3 linked regions of the Homo sapiens genome follow. The protein of the gene in region 1 purifies or fractionates together with the protein of each later gene. This does not show direct contact. Each region holds a gene or a part of one and is shown on either strand. Other genes may lie near its edges.

Region 1 (4,148 bases):
CCCAGGGTTCGGAATGTTTAAAAGATCCCTGGGCAGTTCTGATGTGCAGATGATTCTGGGAACTTTAGTGGCTTAGGCCACTCTGTATATTAGGAAAGATTTTTTAGCACCAGAGTGACATGATCTGATTTATGTTTTAGGGCAATAATTGGTGTAGGAAAAGAGAGTGGAAATAGGGCAACCTACTTATTCACATTTCAGATGAGTTGTTCTTTAGGATCCCTTCACAACCACTTTCTTGTTCTCAAGTTCAGGTTTAATGCCTCCTGTGAGTTTGTTTTTGTTTTGTTTTTCCTTGAGACAAGAGTCTGTTGCCCAGGCTGGAGTGCAGTGGCACCATCTCGGCTCACTACAGCCTCCACCCCGAGTTCAAGGGATTCTCCTGCCTCAGCCTACTGAGTACAGGTGCCCACCACTACGCCTGGCTAATTTTTGTATTTTTAGTAGAGGTGGGGTTTCACCATGTTGGCCAGCCTGGTCTTGAACTCCTGACCTCAAGTGATCTTTTTGAGATGGAGTTTCACTCTTGTTGCCCAGGCTGGAGTGCAGTGGCGCAACCTTGGCTTACTGCAATCTCCGCCCCCAGGGTTCAAGCAATTCTCCTGCCTCAGCCTTCCGAGTAGCTGGGATTACAGGCATACACCACCATGCCCGGCTAATTTTGTATTTTTAGTAGAGACAGGGTTTCTCCATGTTGGTCAGGCTGGTCTCAAACTCCTGACCTCAGGTGATCCGCCCACCTCGGCCTCCCACAGTGCTGGAATTACAGGTGTGAGCCACCAGCCTGACAGGATGGAACTTTAAGTAAGAGAATCACCTTAAGAATCACCCCTAGTGATTCTGTTCTTACTGAAAATGGCTCTCCCCAGTTGAGGTCTCTGAAATGCCCCATTAGTTGAGAATCATTGCTGTAGGGAGACATGTTCTTCAGGTACTGTATCATATCCCTCAGGTGTGTTGTGGTAGAGTAGATTTGAGAACATAACTTTGACTATAAACTCTCCAAGAGCAAGGGCCATGTAATTAATTGCTTTTTTATTTCCCCAATTTTTTTTTTTTGAGACAAGAGTCTCACTCTGTTGCCCAGGCTGGAGTGCAGTGGTGCAATCTCAGCTCACTGCAACCTCCACCTCCTAGGTTCAAACACTTCTCCTGCCTGCCTCCTGAGTAGCTGGGAGGGACTATAGGCGCCCGCCATCATGCCCAGCTAATTTTTGTATTTTTAGTAGAGACGGGGTTTCACCATATTGGTCAGGCTGGTCTCGAACTCCCGACCTCAGGTGATCCACCTGCCTCGGCTTCCCGAAGTGCTAGGATTACAGGCATGAGTCACTGTGCCCAGTCCTTTTTTTTTTTTTTTTTTTTTTCCTTTGAGTCAAGGTGTCACTCTGTTGTCCAGGCTGGAATGCAGTGGTAGGATCTCAGCTCACTGCAGCCATGAACTCCCAGGTTCAATTGATCCTCCCACCTCAGCCTCCTGAGTAGAGGGGACTACAGGCATGTACCACCATGCCTGGTTAATGTTTGTATTATTTGCAGAGACGGGGTTTTGCCGTGTTGCCCATGCTGAACAATATTTTTTTTCTTTTTTGAGACAGGGTCTTATTCTGTCACCCAGGCTGGAGTACACTGGTGCAAACACAGCACACTGCAGCCTCAGTCTCCCCTGGGCTCAAGTGATGCTCCCACCTCAGCCTCGTGAGTCGCTAGCACTACAGACACATATTACGAAGCCTGGCTAATTATTTTTATTTTTTGTAGAAACAGGGTTTTGCCATGTTGCCTAGGCTGGTCTCAAACTCCTGGGCTCAATCTGCTCACCTTGGGCTCCCAGGGTGGTGGGATTACAGGCATGAGCCACTGCACCCGGCCCACAGATTCTTATTGAGGCCTTTGTAAGTAGGCAGTTAATGCTCTATTGCCACCATTTCCCACTGTATTTTTTATAAATACCAATTGTTTGGTCAATCGACTTCTATTTATGAAACTGGAAAAGAATAATGATGATCCCAAATGTCTAACCTCATTGCTTGCCTTTATACAGAATCCTCACTATGGATGGGCTCATTGAGGACATTAAGCATCGGCGGTATTATGAGAAGCCATGCTGCCGGCGACAGAGGGAAAGCTATGAAAGGTGCCGGCGGATCTACAACATGGAAATGGCTCGCAAGATCAACTTCTTGATGCGAAAGAATCGGGCAGATCCGTGGCAGGGCTGCTGAGGCCTGTGGGTGGGACACCCAGTGCGAAACCCTCATCCAGTTTTCTCTCCATCTCTTTTCTTTGTACAATCCCATTTCCTATTACCATTCTCTGCAATAAACTCAAATCACATGTCTGCAAGAAGGCCTCCAAATATAGAAACAATCCCATTAGTCAGCAGTGGACCCTGTCTTTTATTAAGTGAAAGAAGAAACTGAGTCTGAAAGTACTCTAGGAGTAGAATGGTATTTGCCAGGGACTGGAGGAGGGGGCAGTGAGGAGTTATTGTTTAATGGGTACAGAGTTTCAGTTTGGGCAGATGAAAAAGTTCAGGAGACGATGGCCTGGCATGGTGGCTCACGCCTGTTATCCCAACACTTTGGGAGGCTGAGGCGGGCGGCTCACTTGAGGCCAGGAGTTTGAGACCAGCTTGGCCAATGTGGTGAAACCCCATCTCTACTAAAAATACAAAAAAAAATTGGCCGGGCGTGGTGGTGCACGCCTGTAATCCCAGATACTTGGGTGGCTGAGGCAGGAGAATTGCTTGAACTGGGGAGGAAGAGGTTGCAGTGAGCCAAGATCATGCCACTGCACTCCAACCTGGGCGACAGAGTGAGACTCCATCTCAAAACAAAAAAACGGAGATGGATGATGAATGGTGATGGCGGTTGCTCAAAAAGTTGAATGTACTTAATGCCACTGAACTATACCCTTAAATGGTCACGATGGTAAATTTTGTGTTTTACTACAATAAAAACTTTTTTGAAAGTCCAGGAGAAGTAAGGAATTTTTTTTTCTTTTTTTTAAGAGGAAGTCTCGCTCTTGTCCCCCAGACTGGAGTGCAATGGTGCAGTCTAGGCTCACTGCAACCTCCGCCTCCTGGGTTCAAGTGATTCTCCTGCCTCAGCCTCCCCAGAAGCTGGGACTACAGGCACCTGCCACCACGCCCAGCTAATTTTTGTATTTTTAGTAGAGACGGGGTTTCACCATGTTGTCCAGGCTGGTCTCGAACTCCTGACCTCAGGTGATCCGCCCACCTCGGCCTCCCAAAGTGCTGGGATTATGGGCATGAGCCACCATACCTGGCTGGTAAATTTTTTTTTTTTTTTTGTAGATGGAGTCTCGCTCTGTTGCCCAGGCTGGAGGGCAGTGGGACAATCTCAGCTCACTGCAAGCTCCGCCGCCTGGGTTCACGCCATTCTCCTGCCTCAGCCTCCCCAGCAGCTGGGACTACAGGCACACGCCGCCACGCCCGGCTAATTTTTGTGTTTTTAGTAGAGATGGGGTTTATCTGTGTTAGCCAGGATAGTCTCGATCTCCTGGTCTCGTGATCCCCCTGCCTTGGCCTCCCAAAGTGTTGGGATTACAGGCGTGAGCCACTGCGCCCGGCCGGAAAATTTTTTTAATGTAGTGAAATATGTCTACCATTTCCTACCCAATTTTTTTGAATCCCCAAGCAAAATCTTACTGAGAAAGCATCTATTACTTTTTATTAAACTGTTCCATGTTAGGTAGAGAGGAGAAGATGCATGTATGTATTTGGAATAAATTCTGCTTCTGAAAACACCTATCAACCAGACTAGAGTGCTGGAATCCTTGCCCAAAGAAATTCTTAAATCTACCCTAATGTTCATTCCTGTTTTCTGTCCTTTTAGTTTTCCTAACAGAGACTAAGAGAGGGATGGTGGAGAAGAAATAAAGCAATAGATGGGTGGGACTCAGTAGATAGTAGGAAAGAGGGAATGGAGCGTTGAGAGAGAATGGCACAGAGCCAGAAATACCCACAAAGCAGTGCTTCTCAAAGTGTCAGATCAGCAGCATCAATTTCACCAGAGGGATTGCTTGAAATGCAAATTATGGGACCCTACTTTAGATCTTCGATATTGGAAATTGAGGTTGGAGCCCAGCAATCTATTTTCACAAGCCTTGCAGGTGATTCTGAT
Region 2 (4,838 bases), on another chromosome or scaffold:
AACCTTCCTGAGAAGCATTGATGAGTAAATTACTTGTGTTTTCTCATTTGTGGTTTACTCTAGAACTTTAAAGCTGGAAGAAATCTTAGAAATGTTCTAGTCCAACTCAACAGTTAAGGACTATCAGAGAGATTCTTTAAAATAAAGGCTTCGAAATGCATGGCGGAGTTAGCAGGTGGTATGCATTTGTTGAATAGACAAATTTATCTATCCTGTTCTAATTCTTGTTTTTCCTCTAGCAATATTGCATCCTACCACTATGAAGTTTTATCGTGATCTTCTGTTTTTAGTTTTAAAATTGCATTTCTGTATATTATTTCTTAAAATAACACATTTTCATTTATATTTTAAGTCCCAGAAGGAAACATTCTTTTCTACTGTTTTTGTTTGTTTGCTTTGAGACAGGGTTGCCCTGTCTCATTCTAGTTGTCCAGGCTGGAGTGTAGTGACACAATCACAGCTCACTGCAGCGTCCACCTCCCAGCTTAGGTGATCCTCCCAACTCAGCCCAGAGTAGCTGGGACCACAGGCATGCGCCACCACACTTGTAGAGACAGGGTCTCCCTATGTTGCCCAGGCTACTCTCAAACTCCTGGACTCAAGTGATCCTCCCATCCCAGCCTCCCAAAGTGCTAGGATTACAGGTGTGAGGCACCGCGCCCGGCCCTTTTCTACTTTTTAATCACTCCCTACTACTACTACTTCTCTTTTCTTTTTTTTGACGGAGTCTCGCTCTGTTGCCCAGGCTGGAGTGCAATGGCGTGATCTCACCTCACTGCAACCTCTGCCTCCCGGTTCAGGGGATTCTCCTGCCTCAGCCTCCCCAGTAGCTGGGATTACAGGTACACAACAGCATGCCTGGCTAATTTTTGTATTTTTAGCAGAGACGGGGTTTCACCACGTTGGCCAGGCTGGTCTGGAACTCCTCACCTCAAGTGATCCGCCCACCTAGGCCTCCCAAACTGCTGGGATTACAGGTGTGAGCCACAGCCTCCGCCACTCCCTACTACTACTTTCTTTCTAAACAGTCAGGCAGACTGTTGTAAAAACTCGATTCTCACCTTTGTAAGTGTAGCAGTTTCCTACTGCTGCTGTAACAAATTACCGAAAACTCAGTGGTTTAAAACAACACAAATTTATTATCTTATGCATCTGGAGATCAGAAATCTAAAGTTTTGGCTGGGCACGGTGGCTCACGCCTGTAATCCCAGCACTTTGGGAGGCCGAGATGGGCGGATCACGAGGTCAGGAGATCGAGACCATCCTGGCCAACACGGTGACACCCCATCTCTACTAAAAATACAAAAAAAATTAGCCGGGCATGGTGGCGGGCGCCTGTAGTCCCAGCTACTGGGGAGGCTGAGGCTGAAGAATGGCGTGAACCTGGGAGGCGGAGCTTGCAGTGAGCCGAGATCACGCCATTGCACTCTAGCCTGGGCGACTGAGAGAGACTGCGTCTCAAAAAAAAAAAAAAAAAAAAGAAATCTGAAGTTGTATTGTGATCTTCTGTTTTTAGTTTTAAATTATATTTCTTCATATTTTTCTTAAAACAACACATTTTCATTTATGTTCCTCCTTCTGGAAGTTCTAGGAAATAATTTTCCTTACCTTTTTCAGCATCTAGAGGCCACTCATATTCCTCAGCTCATGATCCTGCATTGCTCTGGCCTCCGCTTACATCTATCAGCTCTTCCCACTCTTAACCCGTCTGCCTCCTTCTTATATGAGCCCCTATGATTGCATTGGACCCACCTGGATAACCCAGAATAACCACTTCACCTTAAAATCCTTAATGTAATCGTATTTGTAAAGTCTCTTTTCTTGTGTGTGGGAAATATTCACAGGTCCTGGGGATGAGGATATTTGGCATACCACAATGAGGCAGTTAGAGATGTATGAAATACCTTGTAAATATCTACCTGAGTGTTGGCTCCCCCTGTTTGATATGAAAAACATTGGCTTTAATCTTTGTGGAGTGCTTACTGTGCTCTGGGCATTGTGCTTATCATATTAGTTTCTCACAAAAATATTCTCAAATATTATCTCTATCTAATAAATGTGGGAAATAATGTCTAGAGAGATTAGGTAACCTTCACAAGATCACAGTGTAACAAGTGGCAAGTGTACTTAAGGTTGATTTGGCTTCAAAGCCCACTGCCCCCATAATCATTGAAACACCCTAGTTCTTACTCCCCTTTTTTATTACGTTACAGACACTGTTATTTTCTCATACACTCTCTAAATTAAATGTTACCTCCATGTAGTGCTGCTGTCAGGGAGCGCCTCAGTGGATCAGGAATTAGTTTTCATAAGATACCCCCTCTCCTCAGCATCTGTTCCCCCAAATAAAACTGACTATGAAAGTTTTTACAATTGTCATCCAAAACATCACCGCTTTCTTTAGTGCTTGCTTTATTCCTGTTTATGTCACTTGTAATTCTCCCCCTCTCCTGCTGTGGCCTTTTGCCTAAGCCATTTCTCTCTGCAGTTATTCAGAATCATCTGGCCAGGCCCCAGTGTCTCCCTGTTGTGTGTCAATCCTGAGTAGGTGGAGGATGAAAGTAGAGGAGGAAATGAGGGCATGTCTTCACATTTAGGTATGCATGTAAACAGAGCCAGTGGTGTTAGGAAGCACAGGTGGTTGGGATTGCAGATGGCTAAATAGAGGACAGCCAAGTTTTAAAAGGTGGTCATGCAATCATTGGTGTGTACTAACATACACACTAAAGTAGAGGGTGGTGTTGGCCCTATGGGGTCATTGATATGACTGAGTAATTCCTGACCCACAGCAGCCTCCCAGGAACTGTTTGATGGATCAATGCAAAGTTGTGTCCCATGGCAACATGCTATGTACATAAATATGGACAAGTACCTCACTAGACATTACAAGGAACCAGGTGAAAAGAAAGGCATAAGTAATTGTGAATCTGTCACCTAGTGAGGGAAAGCAATTCAATGCAGGTCCTTCAATGGTAAGTCAGCATCTTTGCTTTCTCATAGACAGGAAAAATAATTGATTTGAAATATTAATATAGTGGGCAGCCATCTAATCTTTCATTAGTTTGTCTGCTCTATCTAAGCTAGACTATAAACTTCTAGGGTAAAAAACAAAACACAAAAGAGAAACTGAGCCTTAAGGTATAATGTCATTTCATCATAGGATTCTATATACTCTAGATAGACTCACTCAAAAAGTTGTTTTTTTTTCATTGTAGATCACTCCCTTAGAGTAATTATGTTGACATAGACTCTGTTTCTTTTTAGGCTGAGGGTCTGATGCAGTTCCAAAATTCCCAGTGTAGATCCAGGCTATAAATAAGACACAGAAAATGCAATTTAAGTGTTTTGTGGCTGCATAGTGTTTAATCACACTTAAGTTTAATAGCAATGAGAAAAATATATTACAGAGCCATGGATATTCATAGAAATGAGTAATTAGGAAAGCATTCATTTGGGAAGTCTCTAAAGTGAAGCTGTCCTTGAACGAAAAACAAAACAAAGAAAAAGCGAATTTTAGAGTGAGTTGGAAACTATCTTGAAATAAAAATATTTGACTGTAAAACTGACTTTTTAGAAAACTACAAGATCTCTAATTTTGGCTTATATAACAACCTGTTTTGAAGTGATACAAATTCACCAATTAAGGTAGGATAATAATTATAAAATAACATGTGTTAACTACTTACTATCCTCTGGGCTCAGTAGTAATTCTTTGCGTGTATCATCTCATTTAATCTCCATAACAATGTTATGAAGTCGAAATTACTATAATATTATCCCCACTTTGCAGATGAGGAAAGTGAAACTTGGAGAGTTAATGAACTGCCCACATGCACATGCCTCATAAGTGGTGAAAAGGGAATTGAACCCAAGCCTTCCCACTCCTTGGTCTGCACTCATAACCACTATGCTGGTACAGATACACAAATATTCTCAACGCTGTCAGCAATCACATTTCTAAGAAACTATAAACAAATAACAAAAGGGTAATAGTAAGTGATCTCGTAGTCAAGTGTGGTCACTTCTATTAATAGATTGGGTACAAATGTGTAATTACATCTCTTCCATCAGTAAGAGTTCATCTACATACACAGATATTCTTACTTCTTCCTTAATTCCCTTCTACTCAATCTGTCTTCAGGATCCAGCCCATAATCAGCTGTGTGTATGCTGACTCACAGTGGTGGGCAGCAATCACTGCAACTTTGCTTTCATTAACCAAAATTGGAATTTGAAGCCCCAAATGCAAGCCATCTGGAAATGGACAGTGAAGGTCACAGTTATATTGGAAGACAGGAAAAATGAGGGGGATGGGGAAGCCAAGGGATGTTAGACTTTCAAAATATTATAGCTGCCCCTTCAACTGGGACTGTGTCTTTTTAGATCAATGAGTTAGTCCTTTTTGGATAATGGGCATATGTAGATGTCTCCACTGAACAAACTGTGGATTGCTCTATCAGTAAGAGCTATCATTTATGCCACATTGACATTTTACCACAAGACAAACTTAGATTTTCCAAAAGAAAGTGTCTTTAAACATTTGCCCAATTTTAAATTACAGGCCAAATTAGGCTAACTAAATCCATGTCCTCTTATTACTGTGATTCTGAGGTCATATTACAAAGCTCTGCCCTTCCCATACCCAAGGGTAGACGTGGGCATGGTTTTTATTCCTGTGGTACACTGCACAGAGCTCCCTCAAAGGGCACCAGGCAGGGCTGGTGAACCAATGCCATTGAATGATCTGTAGTATGAGATATTGGAGGCATTACATATAAACCTTATGAACTTCACTTTTGCCATTGAATGATCTGTAGTATGAGATATTGGAGGCATTA
Region 3 (5,318 bases), about 130 Mb from region 1:
TTTACAGATGGGTAAACCGAGGCTCAGAGAGACAAACAGACTTGTCCAGGCTCCCCACTGTCATGCCAACTGGTCTATTCAGAAGGAAACCCGGCTGGGCGCGGTGGCTCAAGCCTGTAATCCCAGCACTTTGGGAGGCCGAGGCGGGTGGATCACGAGGTCAGGAGATCGAGACCATCCTGGCTAACACGGTGAAACACCGTCTCTACTGAAAATACAAAAAAATTAGCCAGGCATGGTGGCAGGCGCCTGTAGTCCCAGCTACTGGGGAGGCTGAGGCAGGAGAATTGCGTGAACCCGGGAGGTGGAGCTTGCGGTGAGCCAAGATCTTGCCACTGCACTCCAGCCTGGGCTGGACAGAGCGAGACTCCGTTTTTAAAAAAAAAAAAAAGAAGAAGGAGACTTTGGGAGGAAGAAGAGAGACCATAGATGGCAGCTTCTGAATGCACACTGCCCTTTGCAGTTGGCACCTCCTGGACCCCCACCCCTTCTAGGCCTTTACCAAATCCTTTGGAAGTTGAATGAGCTCTGCCCACAGGGAGCAGTGCCCAGGGGAGTCCACTCCCCAGCATTTGGAGGCAGGGTGGGCTGCGAAGCAGGGTGGGTTTAGGGTCAGACAGTCCTGGCTTTGCCACCTTTAACTTTTTTTTTTTTGAGACAGAGTCTCACTCTGTTGCCCTTGCTGGAGTGCAGTGGTGCAATCTTGCCTCACTGCAACCTCCACCTCCCAGGTTCAAGCAACTCTTGTGCCTCAGCCTCCTGAGTAGTTGAGATTACAGGCATGTGCCACTACTCCCATCTAATTTTTTTTTTTTTTTTTGAGACGGAGACTCACTGTGTTGCCCAGGCTGGAGTTCAGTGGCACAATCTCGGTTCACTGCAGCGTCCGCCTCCTGGGTTCAAGCGATTCTCCTGCCTCAGCCTCCCAAGTAGCTGGGACTATAGCTGCGTGCTACCACGCCCGGCTAATTTTTGTATTTTTAGTAGAGACGGCGTTTCACCATGTTAGCCAGGATGGTCTCGATCTCCTGACCTTGTGATCCGCCTGCCTCGGCCTCCCAAAGTGCTGGGATTACAGATGTGAGCCATTGCGCCCCGTCTAATTTTTTTGTATTTTTAGTAGAGACGGGGTTTCCCCATGTTGGCCAGGCTGGTCTCGAAATTCTGACCACAAGTGATTTGCCCATCTTGGCCTCTCAAAGTGCTGGGATTACAGGCATAAGCCACCGTGCCCAGCTTGCCACCTTTAATTTATGTGACCCTCGGTTAGGTGTTTTTGCCTCTTTTTTTTTGAGACAGAGTCTTACTCTGTCACCCAGGCTGGAGTGCACTAGCCCAATCTTGGCTCACTGCAACCTCTGCCTCCCGGGTTCCTGACTTTGGGGACAGAGAGAATGGCTTGAGCAAAGTTATGGAGGCATGAATATGAGGGGCGGAGGTGAGGAGGGAGTGGCCCTCCCACCTGTGTGGTTCAGGAAGAGGCCGATGGCTGCTCAGGAGATGGGAGGGAGGCGCTGTCTGGGGCTATGTTAAGAACAGATAAGAAGTGACAGGAAGGTCTGGAACGGAGACCCATGGGGAGAATGGAGGGTCCTAGAGTCAGGCTGCCTGGGTTGAGTCCTGGCTCCCCTACTTATTAGCTGTGTGGCTTGAGGTGGGTTACTTAACTTCTTGGAGCCTCTGTTTCCTCTTTTGTAAAATGGGAATAACAACATTACCTGCCTCCCAAGGCCATTGAATGAGTTGAATGTAGGAAGTGTGATGTAAATATTAGCCATTGTTACGTGAGATGTTCAGGGGATAGAGTGACAGGCTCAACGTGTGGCTGAAGGAGGAGAAAAGAAGGATTTAGAGGCCCCTGTGAACTCCGGAGTCCCCATCCTTTCTGGGAGAAATGGGCAGTGCCTTCCTCTCTGCCCAACACTGACCAGCTGTCCACCCACCTCTCTAGGGCCAGAGGAAGCACTTGTGATCTTGATTACTACTCATGGACGCTGGGTAGAGGGCTAGCCTGGGCATGCTGGGAGAGGCCCTGGGCTAGCTTCAGCTCCTGTCATTTCCTTCACACCCATTCTCAGAGGAGTTGGGGGCGCCTCAGATGATGTCAGGTGATTTTCTTTTTCCTTTTCTCCCCAACTTCTTGGTCTCCTGCCTCCACCATGTGGCCCTGGGAGACCATCCCGACATTTCCTGCTGTTCTCTGGCTGCTGGGGCTCAGGCAGTAGCAAAGAAATGTCCCCGGCACTCCTGTGGGCACCATTCTAGGGCCACCGATGCCCAGACTGGGATGGGGAAGCCAGGGGCAACCACTCCTATTCCTGACAACAGCAATTGTTGCAGGATAATTTAGGAATCAGAGAGACCGAGGGGTTGAGGAGGATTTATTATTTAGATTCACTGGCTCAGTCAGGCTAACATTTCAAAAGACTGAGCCCTGAACAAAGAGTTAAGTTATCTTTTAAGCATTTCATGGGGCGGGGGTAGATCTGTGCAGGGGGAAGCATATTATAGAGGCAAGAAACAAAGACAGTTATTTAATTGAGACATGCATTATATTATTTTTTACTTTTTAAGGAAAAAAATTTTTACAGCTTGAGTTTATCTGTCTAGTGACCTTGCAGCTGCACAGCTGGAGAAACAGGGTCTTTACAATGCCTGGAAAAAGAGGAGCAATAAGGCTCACTAGCCACAAAAAAACAGGCAGTTAATTTTTAAGGGACTCCAGCTCTTTTTTTTTTTTTTTTCCAGGGAAAATTGTTTTTTTTTTTTTTAACATAGAACTGAGTTTTTGCTTACACGTTTTAAAATTTCTTTTAATTCCTGTTCTACAATAACAACAATGACCCTGCACACTCCCCGAGAGCATTCCTCAACTCTCTTGTTTAACCCAGACCCTGCCACAGAGCATGGCACTCAGCATTTGTTAAATGAGTAAATAAAAACTACCAAGGATGGGCCCACCACTGTGCTAAGTACTCAGCCAACATCTGCACATTTTTTCACATTGAATTCCTATAACCAGCCCATGATGTGAGTATTATCCCCATTTCACAGATGAGGCAACTGAGGCTCAGTTGCCCAAGGCCTCCTTGCTAGCCAGCAGCAGGTCCAGGCTTCCTACCTCAGTCTCTGCCGCCACAGAGCCCCGTTTCGCCATCCCCACCCACGCTATTATGCACCCACTGAGGGAGGCTTAGCTAAGAGATGTGGGGTAACAAACTGTGCTGTGAACCAGGAGGCCCAGGGGCTAACCTTACTTCCAGGGCACACGTGCTGTGTGACCTTGAGCAAGTCACAGACTCTCTGTAAGCTTCTGTTGCCTCGATGAAGACAGGGAGATGGATGGCCTGGTTTGCCCCATAATAATTTATCTGTCGTGTGTTCCTGGGGAATTTGCACTTGTACATGGCAAAGAACCCACAGCCATGAGACTGGCACTTCCCAGGGCTGCTGGGGTCTTCTCTCTCCAGCTACTCCCCTGGCAGTGGCTGCAGAGGCTGGAGCCTAGAGCCTGGGCCAAACACATGCTCCTGTGTCAGTAGAACTGGGTCATCCAGCATCTCCTGACCTGCCTCCAAAACCCCAGAAGGCCCCCCTCTTACCTGCAGATGTCAAGCTGAGTCAAGGTGCCCAGCACACACACGGCATGGGTGGGCTGCTCTGGGGTCACACGGATCAATGTCCCCTGGGCCATCGTCGGGCTAGCTCGTCCCTCTGGCTGTAGGAAGCCCCTGGGCTGGTTCCTTTATATCGCCCAGCAGAGGCCATGAGTCAGCACCTGCGGTCTGTGGCCCAGAGGCTCAACCCCTCCCCACTCAGGTCAGGGGTGTGGGCTCTCAAAATCTCCTCTGCCCTGGGGCTGCCCCTCGGACCTCTAGATGGGTGTCAATGCTGGTACCAGTGGCAGGGTGGCTCTGTCAGTTTCTTGGGAAGGATGGATGGCTCAGAAAGCCTGGGGTGGAGAGTGGGGCTGAGGGGTTGGGTCCTGGTCCTCATGCCCACAGTCCCATCCCTGCCTAGAGGCCCTGAACACCTTGATCTATCCAATCTCACCTATGTCAAACAGGCATATCAGAGAGGAGAAGGTGGGAAAAGCGGGGAGATTTTAGGTAAGCAGTCACAGGCCAGGCTACACGTTCAAAGACCAACCAGGCTTGGGACAAGTCTCTCCACCTGGGCCACCCACATGACAGCTCACATTCTCTATGCCAGGCACGTTTTCCTGCACTTCACATAGAATAGCTCATTACGACAAACCCGTGAACTAGATCATACCATTATCCCCTTATTTCACCCTCACAGCAGCCCTCTGAGGTTGGTGCCATTATTATACCCATTTTACAGAGGAGAAAACAGAGGTGCAGTTCTTCCACAGCTCGAGAGTGGTAGGGCCAGAATTGGAACCAAAGGTGTCCAGTTCCAGAGTGTGAGATTCATTAGCTGCCTGTCTATATGACACGTGCTTTCCAGACTGTATCACAGCTACATCTCGCTACAATACAAGGTGTATATGGGCTTATTATTACAACCCATTTTACAGAAGGAAAATTGAGGCTCAGAGAGTAAAAGTGACTAGCTCTTGCCCAAGGTGCCAGAGCTAGAATGCGGCAGAGCTGGGAAGAGAAGATGAGCTTCCTGGCATGGAAGTTGATGTTCTCTGCATGCTCCAGGATACCTGCCTCTTGCCAGGGCCTCTGGGTGTCAGACCAGACAGTGCAGGTGTGGGCCACGCCTGCCAGGGGGATGCCCATGTGGCCTCAGAGCTGTGGTTGCACCTGGGCCATTGGTGCCAGGCTCTGCCTTTAATGAGGCAACTGGGGGGTGGTGGATGGGTCCCAACAAGGAGCACTCAAAGGGTGCATGCATGGGAGTCTGGCGTGAACATAGAGCGTTTCGTGGGTTGGATATCTTGCGTTTGTTTTTTGTTTGCTTGCTTTGGCTTTGAAGCAAAGAATTTGCCTCATTAATTCAGAGTCAGGCTGTGGGATCAAACAGGCTTTAGTTCAAATCCTGCCTCATCTCAACATCCCTATGGAGTGCGTCCTATCAGGATGCCCATGTGTAGATGAGACCACAAAGACTTAGAGAGATTGAGTGAGACCCCCAAGGTCTCATAAGCCCTACAGTGGGGATCTGGATTCAGACCACCTTCTCTGGGCTCAAAATTTATCTTCTGTACCAGCAGATGATGATGTGGCCAGGTCCGACGTTCTGACGCATCTACATGACTGCCTGCACACAGTGTTAATAAACCCAATTTCTCTGGCTGACCGCATGATTAGAACTAGTTTGAGCTTCTACTGGGAAGTGGCAGGAGG

The links. Proteins that work in one complex are often made in the same cells at the same time.
Region 2: the proteins of MRPS21 (region 1) and PRSS35 purify together in Homo sapiens (co-immunoprecipitation; one large-scale study listed by IntAct). This does not show direct contact.
Region 3: the proteins of MRPS21 (region 1) and PADI4 purify together in Homo sapiens (affinity purification with mass spectrometry; one large-scale study listed by BioGRID and IntAct). This does not show direct contact.

What each region holds. Positions count from the first base shown.
Region 1 is NC_000001.11:150,306,004-150,310,151, forward strand, and holds the end of MRPS21 (small ribosomal subunit protein bS21m), read left to right. Parts: intron 1-2,044; coding exon 2,045-2,225; 3' UTR 2,226-2,976; downstream 2,977-4,148.
Region 2 is NC_000006.12:83,515,116-83,519,953, forward strand, and holds part of PRSS35 (inactive serine protease 35 precursor), read left to right. Parts: intron 1-4,838.
Region 3 is NC_000001.11:17,306,599-17,311,916, reverse strand, and holds the start of PADI4 (protein-arginine deiminase type-4), read right to left. Parts: upstream 3,721-5,318; 5' UTR 3,695-3,720; coding exon 3,603-3,694; intron 1-3,602. UniProt on the Homo sapiens protein: Catalyzes the citrullination/deimination of arginine residues of proteins such as histones, thereby playing a key role in histone code and regulation of stem cell maintenance.